Homo sapiens: one gene and its partners. The protein of the gene in region 4 interacts with the protein of the main gene of each other region in a biochemical or structural test. Each region holds a gene or a part of one and is shown on either strand. Other genes may lie near its edges. The genes, in order: ARHGEF16, SLC15A5, MAP2K2 and PDZD9.

Evidence for each region.
Region 1: the proteins of PDZD9 (region 4) and ARHGEF16 interact in a test that uses a peptide from one of them, tested with the Homo sapiens proteins (one large-scale study listed by IntAct).
Region 2: the proteins of PDZD9 (region 4) and SLC15A5 interact in a test that uses a peptide from one of them, tested with the Homo sapiens proteins (one large-scale study listed by IntAct).
Region 3: the proteins of PDZD9 (region 4) and MAP2K2 interact in a test that uses a peptide from one of them, tested with the Homo sapiens proteins (one large-scale study listed by IntAct).

What each region holds. Positions count from the first base shown.
Region 1 is NC_000001.11:3,461,060-3,464,947, reverse strand, and holds part of ARHGEF16 (rho guanine nucleotide exchange factor 16), read right to left. Parts: intron 1,883-3,888; coding exon of another isoform or gene 1,864-1,882; coding exon 1,276-1,863; intron 1-1,275. UniProt on the Homo sapiens protein: Guanyl-nucleotide exchange factor of the RHOG GTPase stimulating the exchange of RHOG-associated GDP for GTP. May play a role in chemotactic cell migration by mediating the activation of RAC1 by EPHA2.
Region 2 is NC_000012.12:16,222,120-16,226,007, forward strand, and holds part of SLC15A5 (solute carrier family 15 member 5), read right to left. Parts: intron 2,484-3,888; coding exon 2,295-2,483; intron 1-2,294. UniProt on the Homo sapiens protein: Proton oligopeptide cotransporter.
Region 3 is NC_000019.10:4,113,899-4,117,786, forward strand, and holds part of MAP2K2 (dual specificity mitogen-activated protein kinase kinase 2), read right to left. Parts: intron 3,732-3,888; coding exon 3,521-3,731; intron 1-3,520. UniProt on the Homo sapiens protein: Catalyzes the concomitant phosphorylation of a threonine and a tyrosine residue in a Thr-Glu-Tyr sequence located in MAP kinases. Activates the ERK1 and ERK2 MAP kinases.
Region 4 is NC_000016.10:21,987,514-21,991,401, reverse strand, and holds part of PDZD9 (PDZ domain-containing protein 9), read left to right. Parts: intron 1-2,610; coding exon 2,611-2,800; intron 2,801-3,888.

The DNA of each region.
Region 1 (3,888 bases), on a different chromosome or scaffold from region 4:
CCACCATCGGCCTGCAGTGGACGCCCATGGGACATTCTGACAGGTGGTCTTGGCGTCTCCTGAGGCTGGCACTGCCACTCCCAGTCTGGGCAGGAGCTGGGCCTGAGGAGGCAGCTGGGACGGCAACCAGTGAAGAAGACGCTCTGGCACACACCTTCCGTGGACACTGCCCAGAGGATGCCCAGAGGGCGGCTGTGATCTTTGCTTCCACATGGGGAAGCCAAGGCTCAGGAAGGTTCAGGAACTCATCTGGGTCACACAGCACCTGCCCCCGCCCTCGTCCTTCACTGAGGCAGCCCATATGCTTGGGGCCTGTTTTCCAACACGTCTGAGCAAGGCGCCCAACAAGAAGGACGCCCCTGGGGCCAGCCCTGCATCTGCTCTGCATTCTTGAGGGTGCTCGGGCTGCCAGGGCCTCCTGATGGGCGGTTCCAGGGCAGCTCGCCTCCCCTACCCCAGCCCTGCCTGAGCCCAGACCCACCAGCTAAAGAGACCAAGCAGGGTGGCCAGAGTCGCAGTCCTGGCTGGGTGGGTGTCCAGGTACCACGCAACTCTCCCTGAACGTGGCTTCCAGCTCCAGGGCTGCCTGAAATGAAGGCCTGGCCCCCAGCCGCAGGGGATGGTGACTCCGAGGATGAGGGACACTGGGCCCAGGAGCCCCAGCTGGACGCTCTGTCCCCTGGGCCCTAGTGACACATGCAGTCAGGCTACACCCTGCCCAGCAAAGGGTCTGCCGCCACCATGCCCCAGACCTAGAGCCACCACCAGCAGGCAGGGAAGCAGGGCTCTGTGTACAGAGGGAATGTGCAGACTTCTCCTAAGCCCCAGGCCACCGCACAGCTGCCCCGCTTCAGTCCCTCCCGCCTGAGTCCCTGTCTGGAGCTGCCGGGGCAGATGGAGCCCAGGCCAGTCACTGCAGCCAGGTCACCCTGAACCCTATCATCCAGGCAGGCCGGCTCCTGTCCAGAGCTCGGAAACAGGGACTGGGCCCTTCCAGGGATCTGCCCTCCACCAAGGCTGGGAGCGGGGACACCAGAGTCTGGGGGCCTCGGTAGAACCCTCGACCTTTCCGAGCCTCTGCTGCCTCATCTGTAAGGTGGGATCTTCACACTCACAGACTGGGCTGAACTGGAATAAACCAGTCGAGAGCCCTCATGCAGCAGGTGCTTACTAACGGCAGCTGCCATGATGCAGAAGATGACGGTGGTGGAGACGGCCAGGCCGCCCCTCTGCCTAGCAGCCCCCTCCCCACGGTCCACACGAGCAGGCCCCTACCTTGTTTTTGGCCGGGCTCCGAGTATGAGGCTGGCTGGGTTCCTCAGCCAGAGCCTGGAGCTTAGGGCTTAGCTGGATGGCATCTCCCTGGCCACCTGGCTTCCCCAGGCCCTTCATGGCCGCCCGGTAGGATTGGTTCCGCAGGTTCCGCCTCAGCATGCCCCCGGGGTCCTTGTCCACGTCCATGTCATCCAGGGAGAAGCTGGGGGCTGGGAGGAGCTTAGGGTCCCGCCGGGCGGCCTCCCTGCTAAGTACAGCCGCCCCGAAGCTCTGGTGGCGGGCTGGGGTCTTTGCCTTGCTGGCCACAGCCAGGCTCTTAGGGATCAGCTGTTGGGTGCCCAGCTTGAGGGCCGCCGGGCTCTCTGTGCTCAGGACGATGGGCCATGGCTCCTCGTGCCCCGGGGGCCGAGGCTGTGGGGGTGCCGGGACCTGGGGCTGGAAGGCGGCATCGTCTCTAACACGCGGGGAGCCACGGACCATTGGGAGCCCGGAGGCTGGGTTCCCCCCGGCATCGAGCCGGAGCTCCGAGTGGAAGCGGTGTCCCAGGAGCTTCTCCTCCAAGGAGCTGTCTGAGTGCCGCTGGGCCATGCTGGGCGGCTGTGGGGTCCTGGGGGAAGGGCAGAAGTGAGGTCTCGTGAGGCTGCTCTCCCCTGCCCCCGCGGGTGTCCACCCCCCTACCCCTTTGCATATGTCTGGCCGGGGCTCCAGTACAGCTCCCAGGACACAGCAGGCAAGGACAGCGACGCAGCCAGGAGCACAGTGGATCAGTGGCACAGCCAGTCCTGACCACTGGGAGCCAGCCATGTCTGAGGCCGGAGGCTGGACACAGGATGGGACTGGGCAGGCGCTGGTTCTCCGAGCTCCAAGGGACCAGGTGGGCACAGCCTATGGGGGTAGGCTGGACCTTGGAGGTTGGGAGGCCACACTGCTTCCTCTGATGGGCAGCACGCACTGAGGACACATTCCTGAGCCTGGAGGCAGGTGGGGCAGCTCAGGTGCATGGCCCTGGAGCCCTGAAGACCTGGCCTGGAATCCTGGCTCACACCTGGCAGCCATGCAGCCTCCTGGAACCACTTCCTCGTGGTGAACGCAAGGGTCATGGCGTTGCACTGGGGGGCTTCCTGAGGCCGGCATCAGCCACAGCGGCAGTGACCACAGCCTCTGCCTCATTGGGGTCTTCCAGGCACCTGAGCCAGGCTCTGCTGGGTTGGGGGGAGGGCAGGTGCATTTGCCCACATGCTCCCGGCCCGAGCCCAGGCCTGTGTGATTCCCCTCTCTTAGCCACACAGTGATATGACTGTCGCGGACTGTCCATGGAACCTTTCCACACACCAGGCAACACGCTTGCATTTTTCCACGTTTCTGAACTGGGCATAAAGCTGACAATTCTGGTCTCAGGAGCCCCACCAGTCACCAGCCCGAGAGTCCAGTATGACACCTGGCCACTGGGCAGGTGTGGTGGTGGCAGGGGTGGCAGCCCACAGTCCCACGTACACCCCCCAGCAGAGAGCGGGAGCTGCCCTGTAGACATCTCTGTAGCCCGATCCCCACACCCCGTGGGCTGCCCCGCCCCCGCCACACTCCTGCCCGCCCCTCCTGGCAGCGCGTGCCCCCGAGCCCATCTCTACCCCACTGTTCCCTTCATGGTCCGGGGCTGGCACCCTGCCCCTGACACTACTGCTTCCCATTTCTCACTTTCCTCCTTCCAGACCCGAGGCAGGGCTGCCCTTCTGCCCCTTGGGAATGGCACAGTCCTGAGACTGGCTTTGGGACATACGTGCCTGCCAGGTAGGAATGTGGAGAGCCAGCTCTCGACCTGCCTCTGCGTCTTCCCTGGCTGCCATGACTATAGGCACGCGTGGCCAGGCAGAGCCTCAATGGCCTGGACCCCGTGTGACCGAGATGTGCAGAGCCCCCAGCCGACACGGCCTCCAGGAGCCGGGCCCAGAGGTCTGTTTCCAGGCACTTTGCGGGGCTGTTGTGGCTACACATCACCTCCTGAGTGACGGCGCATTGCTCGGCCACAGCGGTCAGGCCCACAGTGAGCTTTCACGCCCCGGGCTGCTTGCAACCCCCCTGGGCACTTGCAACCCTCAGGCCACTGAGCAATGGATTCCGAGGGTCTGGTCTCTCAGGCCTCCCAGCTTTCCCCTCTGCTGCTCAGGGGCTCCCCACACGTGTCAGGGAGCAGCCCTGACCCAGGCATGTGGTCAATGAGCAAGTGACGCTGCCTCTCCGTGCCTCAGTTTCAAAATCTGCAAAATGGGCATGATAAGAGCAAGGCCCACCTCCTGAAGGTACGGTGGGAAGTGTAAAGCGTGCAAAGCGTGTAACAGGCCTGGCCGGTGTGAGGCCTGCGTCTGCGCCGCAGTGACCAAGGCCTTGCCGAATCACAGACAAGCTCATGCTCCCTATGCTCAGGGAGCTTCGTAGGTTCAAAAGGTAACGACATGGAGAAAACTCGCTGCTTTCATTCTTTCCCTTTTAAAAAATAAAGATAAAAACAATAACCACCACCACTCAGTATGCCTCCTATACACCCAGAACGTCACACACATGAAAATGACCGGAGTCTCTTGCGGGTGGAAACTGATTTTTCTGATGGGAAAACAA
Region 2 (3,888 bases), on a different chromosome or scaffold from region 4:
CTAATTATTGAATGCTGTCTATATACGGGGCACTGCGGTTTTTGCTTTACATAAAATCTTCCACTTAGTCCTTTGAACAACTCCCTGTTTTATAGATGATGAGAAAAGCCCAGAAATGAGGAATAATTTTCCCAACGTCACAGAGTTAGTCAGTGACAGAACTGGGTTTGAATTCAGATCTGTCTGACTTTAAGACCATAGAGCCTAACCTCTGTGCTGTACTGTCTCCCAGAAAGGTAATACTTGATTTTATAGTTTGAAATACCCTTTCATATGTTATGTCATTTGATTTTCAAGGAGTAGTCTCTCATTCCCATTGATGCTTACCCTATCAATGCTGTGATATAAAGAAGAATACAATTATTTCTATTTTAAATATCAGAAAAGTGAGGATTGGAGGTTAAATGAGTTCCCAAATTTATGTAGGTAGTAATGGAAAAGCTAGATATCAGACCAAATTCTTTCAGTCCCTGGTCCATTATCCCAATAGCAGATGAGTCAAGTGACTTAGACCTCAGTTAGGCCTGATTTCCTGGAGTAAATCAGGGAGTGGTGGAGTAAGTGATGTGTAGCACATGATCTGCCTTTTTCACAGTCATTGGTTTTCTGTACCTCTCTGGCTTCTGAATGTTGAACCACTATTGCTAAGCTGGCTAGCAATTTCCTCCACATATTCACTCATTACTTTTACTCATTATTTACTCTATACCAGCCCAGAAAATTTTGGCTGACTACTTCCAACACATTTTTGGGAATAACATCAGAGAAGATCACAAATATTTGTGTAGTAGCATTGCTTTACACTTCTTTTGTCTTCCTTGCAGTGTTAAACAGTGAGGTCCCCAGTTTAAAATCTCATAAAGTAATTTATGTATGCAAAATATATGGGATGAAATGATATACAATTATAAAAAAAGAAGTCTGAGACACACATATATATGCATATACTCCAACTTAATTTTATTTTCATTATTTAATGAATTGCCTTGGTATCATAAGTATGTGTGTGTATAAATACATATTTATTAAATATTTATTTTAAGGAGTTTGGAAACAACTTTTAAGATAATAGAATCATTGAAGATTGTAGACACAGATGGAATGGTTAGAATTGTTATTTAGGATGATTACTCTAAAATCCATGTGCCAGTTGATAGAATGGGAGAGATAATGGAGGTCGGAAGATAGTTAGAAGTTATAAAAATATTATCCATAAAATATAATGGGAGCTTGAGTTACAATCAGGACTCCTACTACACGAAAATTTAAGGAGGATAGAAACATAAGATGTAATCAATTACAGAGATAAATAGATGTACACACACATTACTGTATTGCAAGAAGCCACTGAAATATTGTGATAAATTGTAAAGTGGCTAGTTTAATTAATATAAGCAATCTAGATAATTCAGAAACCCTTGATATTTAATAAACTTATTTTGAACCTGTCTTATGAAACATTAGTGATCTCATTTAATCTAGTGTAATTTAATTCAAAGACATCAAGTTATCTGGAAAATTGGCTTAAATTTTCATTTCATTTGCATGTTTATATACTCTCAAAGAACATTAAGTGTCATTTTTGGAGGAGTATAAATGAGCTTTTTTTTTTTTTGAGATGGAGTCTCACTCTGTCACCAGGCTGGAGTGCAGCGGCACAATCTCGGCTCACTGCAACCTCCGCCTCCCGGGTTCAAGTGATTCTCCTGCCTCAGCCTCCTTGAGTAGCTGGGACTACAGGCGCCTGCCACCACACCTGGCTAATTTTTTGTATTTTTAGTAGAGACAGGGTTTCACCATGTTGGCCAGGATGGTCTTGATCTCTTGACCTCGTGATCCACCTGCCTTGGCCTCCCAAAGTGCTGGGATTACAGGCGTGAGCCACCGCACCCGGCCTGTGAGTTTATCTATGAGTGAGAGTCGGGGAGGTGAGAGGAGGGAAGGGAGAAGAGAAGAGGCTTTACATCTTAGTGTTCTGGAGTTGTCTTCTGGGTTTTAGCAGAGGTTTTCCTCCTGTGGTGTGTCTGACAAAATGGTTATTGCCTTTAACCAGATTAAAAATCTTTTGTTCCATCTGCATCCAGGCAGAATTGATAATTGTTCTGTGCATGGCAGAGGAATGAGGAGAAATGAAATGTTTGTAAAAAAGTAATAAATAAATTTGCTGGAAGTATTGTGGGAACTCTCTAGGAGGTGAATAGATGACATACCACTTTAATTGTTCTGGTTGAGGTGATGTGTTCTGTGTAAAGGTTCAGTATGTTCTAACATTAGTTGAAAAGGTGTTTACTCACGGGCTGGGTTTACCAGTGTTTCCGCCACTCCAAGTAAAACATACTGAAGAATCAGGTAGAAACAGGGCATGGAGGAAACAGTGAGAACTTTTCCTGAAAGGGGCTGCTCCACTGCAGGGAAATGTTTTCGGTGTATTTCAAAGAAGCCAGCTATCATCACAGACAATGCAGCAAAAAGATTTCCAGCAACTGAAGGAAAATAATGCAAAAGAAAAAAAAGTTAAACGAAGAGCTAGAGATTCATGTAATAAGCCATAACATTTCTTACCCATTGACATTAGATGTTTCTTTTTTGTTTGTTTGTTTTTATTTTTTTTTAATTTTTTTATTATACTTTAAGTTCTAGGGTACATGTGTACAATGTGCAGGTTTGTTACATATGTATACATGTGCCATGTTGGTGTTCTGCACCCATTAACTCGTCATTTACAATAGGTATATCTCCTAATGCTATTCCTCCCCCCTCCCCCCACCCCACAACAGGCCCTGGTGTGTGATGTTCCCCTTCCTGTGTCCAAGTATTCTCATTGTTCAATTCCCACCTATGAGTGAGAACATGCGGTGTTTGGTTTTTTGTCCTTATGATAGTTTGCTGAGAATGATGGTTTCCAGCTTCATCCACGTTCCTACAAAGGACATGAACCCATGATTTTTTATGGCTGCATAGTATTCCATGGTGTATATGTGCCACATTTTCTTAATCCAGTCTATCATTGTTGGACATTTGGTTTGGTTCCAAGTCTTTGCTATTGTGAGTAGTGCCGCAATAAACATACATGTGCATGTGTATTTATAGCAGCATGATTTATATTCCTTTGGGTATATACCCAGTAATGGGATGGTTGGGTCAAATGGTATTTCTAGTTCTAGATCCCTGAGGAATGGCCACACTGTCTTCCACAATGGTTGAACTAGTTTACAGTCCCACCAACAGTGGAAAAGTGTTCCTATAGGCAATACCATTCAGGACATAGGCATGGGCAAGGACTTCATGTCTAAAACACCAAAAGCAATGGCAACAAAAGCCAAAATTGGCAAATGGGATCTAATTAAACTCAAGAGCTTCTGCACAGCAAAAGAAACTATCATCAGAGTGAACAGGCAACCTACAGAATGGGAGAAAATTTTTGCAATCTACTCATCTGACAAAGGGCTAATATCCAGAATCTACAAAGAATTCAAACAAATTTACAAGAAAAAAACAACCCCATCAAAAAGTGAGTGAAGGATATGAACAGACACTTCTCAAAAGAAGACATTTATGCAGCCAACAGACACATGAAAAAATGCTCATCATCACGGGCCATCAGAGAAATGCAAATCAAAACCACAATGAGATATCATCTCACACCAGTTAGAATGGTGATCATTAAAAAGTCAGGAAACAACAGGTGCTGGACATTAGATGTTTCCTCAACATTTGTTTGCCCTCGGGATATCCAGACGCCAGTGATCTGTGCTGTTTGGCCATCCAGTGCTTAGGCTGTGGCCTCACAAAGGGCTGAGTTGACTTCCTCTTCCCTGACTTCCTACATATAGAACCTCAGGCCAGTAATGTAACCTCATTATCACTTTCCTCAGCTCCAAGGTGGAG
Region 3 (3,888 bases), on a different chromosome or scaffold from region 4:
AAATCATGGATCAGAAACTGACAGCTCCCAAGCTGGATGTAGCCAAGAGTCACGTGCAGCCCACACTGCGCTTCCAAACATCCTGAATTAGGTGTTGTCAAAAATTGGAAGAGAGCCGGGGCAGTGGCTCACATCTGTAATTCCAGTGCTTTGGGAGGCTGAGGCGGGAGGATCGCTTCAGGCCAGGAGTTCAACACTGGGCAGCGTAGCAAGCCTTCATCTCTACAAGAGATTTTAAAAATTAACACACAGGCTGGGAGCGGTGGCCAGCTAGGGGACCGCAGTGCAGTGGATCTGGAGGCTCAGCCCCGGCAGCTGCTCCCAAGTCCGAGCAGATCCAAGAGGGTTCGAATCCGATTCAGGCACTGACCCCACACAGCCTCGGTTTCTTCAACTGTAAAACGAGGCTGCTGTTCAATTTTAATGAGAACACGCGTCAAAGGTGTTGGCAGCGGCTTCGACTCAGGTCGTCACTTGTGAGACAGCAGCTGGTACTGTGAGGTGGCCTTGGGCAGGCCGTGTGACCGCCACCCTGGAAGTAAGCTACAGCGGAGTGGAGGAACTCAGAGGCGAGAACAAACACTCTCATCTCTGCTATGAGCATGGACAATTCAAAGAAGCCCCACACGCGTAACAAGCAGCAAGTTCTTCACCTATCTCCCTGGCCCAGGTAACGCGGGGACGCTGCTCCAATGGGAGAGGGGTCAGAGGCCACGGTCAAGCCAAAAAGACATTTACAAACCAGCATGACCTCAAATACCGAGACTGGGCCAGGCGCGGTGGCTCACGCCTGTAATCCCAGCAATCTGGGAGGCCAAGATGCATGGATTCCTTGAGGTCAGATGTTTGAGACCAGCCTGGCCAACATGGTGAAACCCCGTCTCTACTAAAAATACAAACATTAGCCAGGCATGCCAGCCACTCAGGAGGCTAAGGGAGGAGAATCGCTTGAACCTGTGAGGTGGAGGTTGCAGTGAGCCGAGATTGTGCCACTGCACTCCAGTCTGGGTGACAGAGCGAGACTCTGTCTCAAAAAAATAAATAAATAAAAATAAGTAAATAAATAAGATGAAATGAAAGGAGCCCTTGCAGCCCTACCTGCATAGCAGCCAGAGCCGCTGAGCCCACGAGCTCAATGCATCCTCTCCCACCCGAGTTTTCGGGCACTTTAAAGAAAACCTAATTTTGAAAGAATTATAGAAGCACAGGAAGTTGCAAAAATAGTAACGAGAGTCCCGTGCGCCCTTTCCCCGCCTCCCCCAAGATGACTGACATCTTACATGACGGAAGGACAGTACTGACACCCAGAGCTGATGCTGGGACATCTCCACCCACCAGACCACAGAACCTGCCCAGCCACGCCTGCCCTCAGGTTCAAAGGCCCCGATCTCCCTTTCCCCGCTACAGTAAAGCTGCAGGTGGGCCCGGCTTCACCTGCGCCTGTCAGCAGGAGCAGGAGCTGCTGATACAGCAAGCATTGGGTTCATGTCCACTGCCCAGCCCATCAGGGACCACTGGAGGCTCCCCCAGAAGCCTGAGGGTCCCTGGCACACACGAGGACTGGCACTGTCTCAAGGCCCTGCTGTGGCTGTGTGAACCACACGCTTGCCTTTTTCCACCCAGTGCTTCGGGCGGAGGCGGACCTGAGCTTTCCAAGGCTGCTCCGGTTTGGAAGAGGCTGCCTGCAGTACGGGGACAGAAATAGCAAGTCCGCGGCTGCACACTTCAGGAGGGAGGGAGGGCAGCACTCTAGAGGCCAGAAGACAGAGCTGCAGAGCTAAATCCCCGCAGGAGTTGAGCCGCTGCTCCCGAGGAAGGCAGGGCCCTCAAGCACTGCTGCCACCTGCGCAGACCCACGGGACTAGGTGCAGTCACGTTCCCCCAGTTTGGGGAACTACAGGATGGTGGGCTTCCAGGAAGAGGCAGCGTTCTAGGTCTGAAAGAACACCGGTGAGGAGCTGAACACCCTGTCAACACTAAGTCCCCTACTTCTGTGTTTAAGAGCCACTGTCCCCAAGTGGTCACATCCTCCCTGTATCCCCTGGGCACTATTCTCAAACACAGAGCACAGAGGCTGCATCATGGCCCAGGAGCCCGGGATGACTAAGCACGGGGGCCGTCAGCACCAGGGCTTGCAGACTTTCAAAGGGTGGGTGACAGTCAGCTTTGTGTGTCTCCTCGGTGAGACCACGGTGCCCAGTTGTCAAACGCCAGTCTAGAGGTTGCTGGGAAGGTATGTTTTTAAGATGTGATTAACCTTTAAATTGGCAGACTCTGAGCAAAGCAGATTACTCCACCCCAGGGTGGGTGAGTCTCAGCCAATCAGCTGAAGGCCTTCAGGGAAAAGCCTGCCCAGGCGCGGTGGCTCATGCCTGTAATCCTAGCACTTTGGGAGGCCGAGGCAAGAGGATCACTTGAGGTCAGGAGTTCGAGACCAGCCTGGCCAACACGGTGAACCCCATCTCTACTAAAAAAACAAAAATTAACTGGGTGTGGTGGCATGCACCTGTAATCCCAGCTACTCGGGAGGCTGAGGCAGGAGAATCCCTTGAACCCAGGAGGTAGAGGTTGCAGTGAGCCAAGATCGCACCACTGCACTCCAGCCAATTCCTTAGAATAAATCTCTCTCTACACATACACTCAAGTATCATTAAGGACAGGGATACACTGAGAAATCCCTCTCTGGGCGATGTCGTCACTGTGCAAACACTGGAAAGCCCATTCCACACCCAGGCTCCCATGCTCTGTACAGCGCAGTGCTGAGCTGCTGTCTGTTTATTTAAATATAGAGAACCGAGGCAGGCGGATCACCTGGGGTCAAGAGTTCCAGACCAGCCTGGCCAACATGGCGAAACCCTGCCTCTACTAAAAACACAAAAAAATGAGCTGGGCCTGGTGGTGTGTGCCTGTAATCCCAGCTACTCGGGAGGCTGAGGCAAGAGAATCCTTGAACCCAGGAGGCGGAGGTTGAAGTGAGCCAAGATCATGCCACTGCACTCCAGCCTGGGCAACAGAGCAAGACCCCGTCTCAAAAAGTAAAAATAAAAATAAAAATAAACATACAGAAGGCACAGCAAAAACATGGCCTGATCATCTTACGTCGCCACCGCTGCGTAGGCGGTCTGTCACTGGCTGAGCCATCGCCCTGAGGTGGCTGTACACATAGGCGCAAACACACACACGCTTCGTCTTCATCGCTTGTTTCTCTGGAGAACCATAACACACTCGCATTTCTGAAACCCCCACGTGCTAGCTTTCTGGGAATATGGATTTCAAGTGCCCTCCAGGGCAGAAAGTAGTCACTGGAGGGCACAGCTGTGTGTGGCTGGTGTGGCTGGCACGGCTCCCATCTGCCCAGAAGCTGGGCCCTTTCTCAGGACCTAGAGTCCCTGGTGGGGATGAGGGACAGAGCCTGGAGCTAATCAGAATGCAGAGACCCGGCTGCCTTCCCAACCTGCCTCCTGTTTCCAGGGGGACCTTCCCCACCACTCCCCGACCTCCCCGACCCCGCAGTGCTCACCTTCCTGGCCATGATGAGGCCCGAGGGTCTGTGCTGGACTTTGGTGACCACCCCGCCGTTGCCCGCGCCCAGCTCTGAGATCCTTTCGAAGTCATCGTCTTTGAGTTCGCCGACCTTGGCTTTCTGGGTGAGAAAGGCTTCCAGCCGCTTCTTCTGCTGCTCGTCAAGTTCCAGCTCCTCCAGCTTCTTCTGCAGGTCCACCAGGTTTGCCCTGCAGAGACCCCCCAGGGTAGGGGTTAGCTACCTAGGGAGACTCCATCTGGCCGTTTGCTATGTGGCCGTGGTGCATCGGCCCCCAGGAGGACACAGACTGGATTCCTGCACTTGAGGGGTTCATGGTGTAGAAGGAAAGGATCCATGCTGTGTAC
Region 4 (3,888 bases):
CCCAACATGGTGGGCATATGCGCTTGCAGTCCCAGCTCCTCCAGGGGCTGAGGCAGGAGGGTTGCTTGAGCCCTGGAGGTCGAGGCTGCAGTGAGCTGTATTTGTATCCCTGCATTCCAGCCTGGGTGACAAAGTGAGACCCTGTCTCAGGAGAAAAAAAAAAAAAGAAATTAATGTAGCTTCAACAGTAAATACAAGTCATGGACTGGCTACTGCCTAAGCAGTTCCTAAAGGCCTGGTGTGTGCAGACACCCAGCTAGGCACTGGGGGTGTAGTGGTGAACGGCACAGACATGGTCCTTAGCCTTGAGGAACTTAAGGAACTTCCAGCCTAGTTGGGAGAGATGAAAAAGATAAAATATTTTTCAGTAGTGGCTTGGCTGCTGCAAAGTTGATTTACTGTAGGTAATCGAGACAAAGTTTATATAATGTCATCCTATAGCCCATTAAAACAGAAAAAAAAAGGTGTAATGAGGTTGGTGTTCATAAGTACGAAATTGGTGTTTCTGTATGAAGGGCAATGTTAATATCTATTGCTAGAGTAATCACATTCACATGCTGACATGTTTGGTTTACAGCCAGAACGGTCAGGAAATTAAGCTGTTTATTTTCTGCCCTCTTGATAAAAGTCACACTTTTACAACATAATTAAGCAGAATGCCAAGCCATAGCTTTCAGCTATAAACACTGCTTTTAACATTAGGTAAGTAAGCTCATCCGGGGAGGGTTTTGTTTTTGTTTTGTTTTGTTTTGTTTTGCCATTGTAATTAACCTCAGTAGGATGAGCAGCTGTTTCATATTGCTCAAGCTGCAGGTAGCCTTGTTTCATTCTGAAGTGAGCTTCAGATACATGGTTGATTGTATTACCCCCAGCTACTGCTTAAGACCAAAGTAGAAGGTTTTTCTCCACCCTTGTAAGTATTTGTTTTCTGGAATTCTGGGAACTTTTGTTTCTGATAGGATCTAGAGCTATGGACATTTGTCCTTGGCATCCTTAGAGGCTTCTTTTGGGATCAGTGTAATTCCTGATTGAAGCCCAGTGCATGCATCAGAGAAGGCACTTCTTGACCCTTTTCTTCTTTGAGGTTAGGCTTCAGCTGTCTTAGAATGAGGCTGATTGAGGGTCTCCAGAAGGTCAGTACTAGTAAGATCTGAAGACTTAAGATTTTGCCCAATGTGAGCTGGTCCTTAAAAAGCAAATCCTTTGTATTCCTTTCTGAAGTCTTGCTGAATGCCGTTGTAGCAGCCAGGGTTCCTCATTGCAAAAAACAGAAAACACTTCTGTTAATGCACTGAATTTGGGATACTGAGTCTGACAGAATCTCCCAAAAGGCTGGAGAAGCAGGCTTGGAAAATGGTGAGAGAACCAAGAGCTGTGTGTAACTACCCCTAGCAACTAGAAGCTCCTGTCACTCTTTTGCATCTCCTCCTCCAGGTTCAGTGACCCAGGTGGGAGTGTCAAGTAGCTGGATCTCACTCACAGGTCCATGACCTAGCTGCTGGAGGTGGGGACATGGGGGAGGTTGGAGCAAGTGAAAAATTGGTCTTTTTAGCTTCCTTCAATTTGGGGGTTTCGGGGGTTAGTGCTCAAGATGTAGTCCTCTTCCCACCTGCCAGGGACTCGGAAGCTGCATGGTTGCCCATCTTGTTTCTTTCCTTATCCTGCGTTGCCCTAAGGTAGGGAAACCTAGCTGTCAAATCCCTTTAAACCAACATACTCACTGCATACACATCTTACAGTTAAAGCATGCCTAATTGCCCAATGTTTTATACAGAATTATTTGCTCAACTAATACTGCACAAGGGTAGAGAATTAAAATGAAAGGCTTTATGTTTAATATGGTCTATTAACTGTGGAGGGCACTGGAAATTGCCAGGCAGGTATAATAGAAAGTAGGTCATTTATTCACCACTTAGTGTAAGTGGTTTTTTCTTTTCTAGTAATAGCCATTCATTTTATCTGAAACTAATCTATTTTTAGAATCCTAACAGCTGGTTCCGATTATAAATGTTTTTTAGCCTCTGTCACACCAAGAACTTCAGAAACGTCTCAAAAACATCATATAATGTCTACCAATATACTGCTATTAAGAAACATCTTGCATACATTCTTCAGTATGCAAAGGACATTCATATCATGGACATGAACATCTTTATTAAATAAAGGCTGGGCCGGGTACGGTGGCTCATGCCTGTAATCCTAGCACTTTGGCAGGCCGAGGTGGACAGATCACCTGAGGTCAGGAGTTTGAGACCAGCCTGGCCAACATGGTGAAACCCCATCTCTACTAAAAAAAAAAAACAAAATTAGCCAGGCTTGATGGCACATGCCCATAATCCTAGCTACTTGGGAGGCTGAGGCAGGAGAACCACTTGAACCTGGGAGGCGGAGCTTGCAGTGAGCTGAGATCATGCCACTGCACTCCAGCATGGGTGACAGTTAGACTTCATCTCAAAAAAAAAAAAAAAAAAAAGGCTGAAGCCTGGTTTTGGTTCAAAAAGAATCAACAATATGAACCCATAAAATGAAATACCTCACAATAAAGCCAGAAATCAATATAGTCCCTTTAAACCTCTAGTTTTACTGATACATAATTTTTTCCCTCTTCAGGTGATGTTCTGATTAGTGTTGGCCATGCCAATGTGTTAGGATATACTCTTCGAGAATTTTTACAGCTTTTGCAACATATCACTATTGGAACAGTGCTACAAATCAAGGTTTACCGAGATTTTATTAACATTCCTGAAGAATGGCAAGAAATATATGATTTAATCCCTGAGGCCAAATTCCCAGTAACAAGGTAAATAGTTCATTTTAGGAACTCTTTGTTATAATACAGAATCCCAGGGCCTGTGAGGCATAGATGGTTTAATGTGACAATTATCAAATGATAAGGATCATGACAGGAGGACTGGTGACACTGTCAGAGTAATTTCCTGGGTTTCTGGTATTAGATCTGTAGGATCTAATATGAGAAAGCACGATGAAGTCAACCTGGAGTTAAAAAACAAGTCATCGGTTGGGAATTTTGTCCCCATGCCTACCTGTATGGTGCCCCTCTTTCCCGAGTCAGCCCTTAAAAATGCTTCTTGTGGGCCAGGTGTGGTGAATCATGCCTGTAATCCCAGCACTTTGGGAGGCTGAGGCGGGTGGATCATGAGGTCACGAAATCGAGACCATCCTGGCCAACATGGTGAAACCCCGTCTCTACTAGTAAATTACAAAAATTAGCTGGATGTGGTGGCGCGTGCCTGTAATTCCAGCTATTCGGGAGGCTGAGGCAGGAGAATCGCTCGAATCAGGGAGTCGGAGGTTGCAGTGAGCCGAGATCGCACCACTGCACTCCAGCCTGGAGATAGAGCGAGACTTTGTCTCAAAAAAAAAAAAAAAAAAAAAAAGTGCTTCTTGCAAATCCTATTTTCTTTTCCGTATTCAACTTTTTGTTCTCTGGGTCCTTCCCAATAACATCTAAGCCTTTTTAAACTTCTCCCATCTTGGCAAATCCTATCTTCAGTCCACTCTCCTCTCCCTACCCTCTTTAGCCACTGGAGTCTTTTGCATCCACTCCCAACTTGCTAAAAGCTGTATTAGACACCTCTGTTTCCTCGAAAGACGCCACTTCCCAGACACTCCTCCACCCACTTCAATCTAGGCTTTGCTTTCATCCCTTGGCTGAGTCCTTTTCCCAGGGCCACCCATAGCCTTCACACTTCTGATCCCACTAGATTCTTCTGTCTTTATCTTGCTTGGCTTCTGAGCAGCATTAGACACTTAACAATTTCCACCCACTCTCTTCTTGAAATAGCACTTCCCAGGCTTCTGTGACACCACACTCCCCTGATTTTCCTGTTACCTCTGGCCATTTCCTCTTGGTGTCCTTTCTCCTAG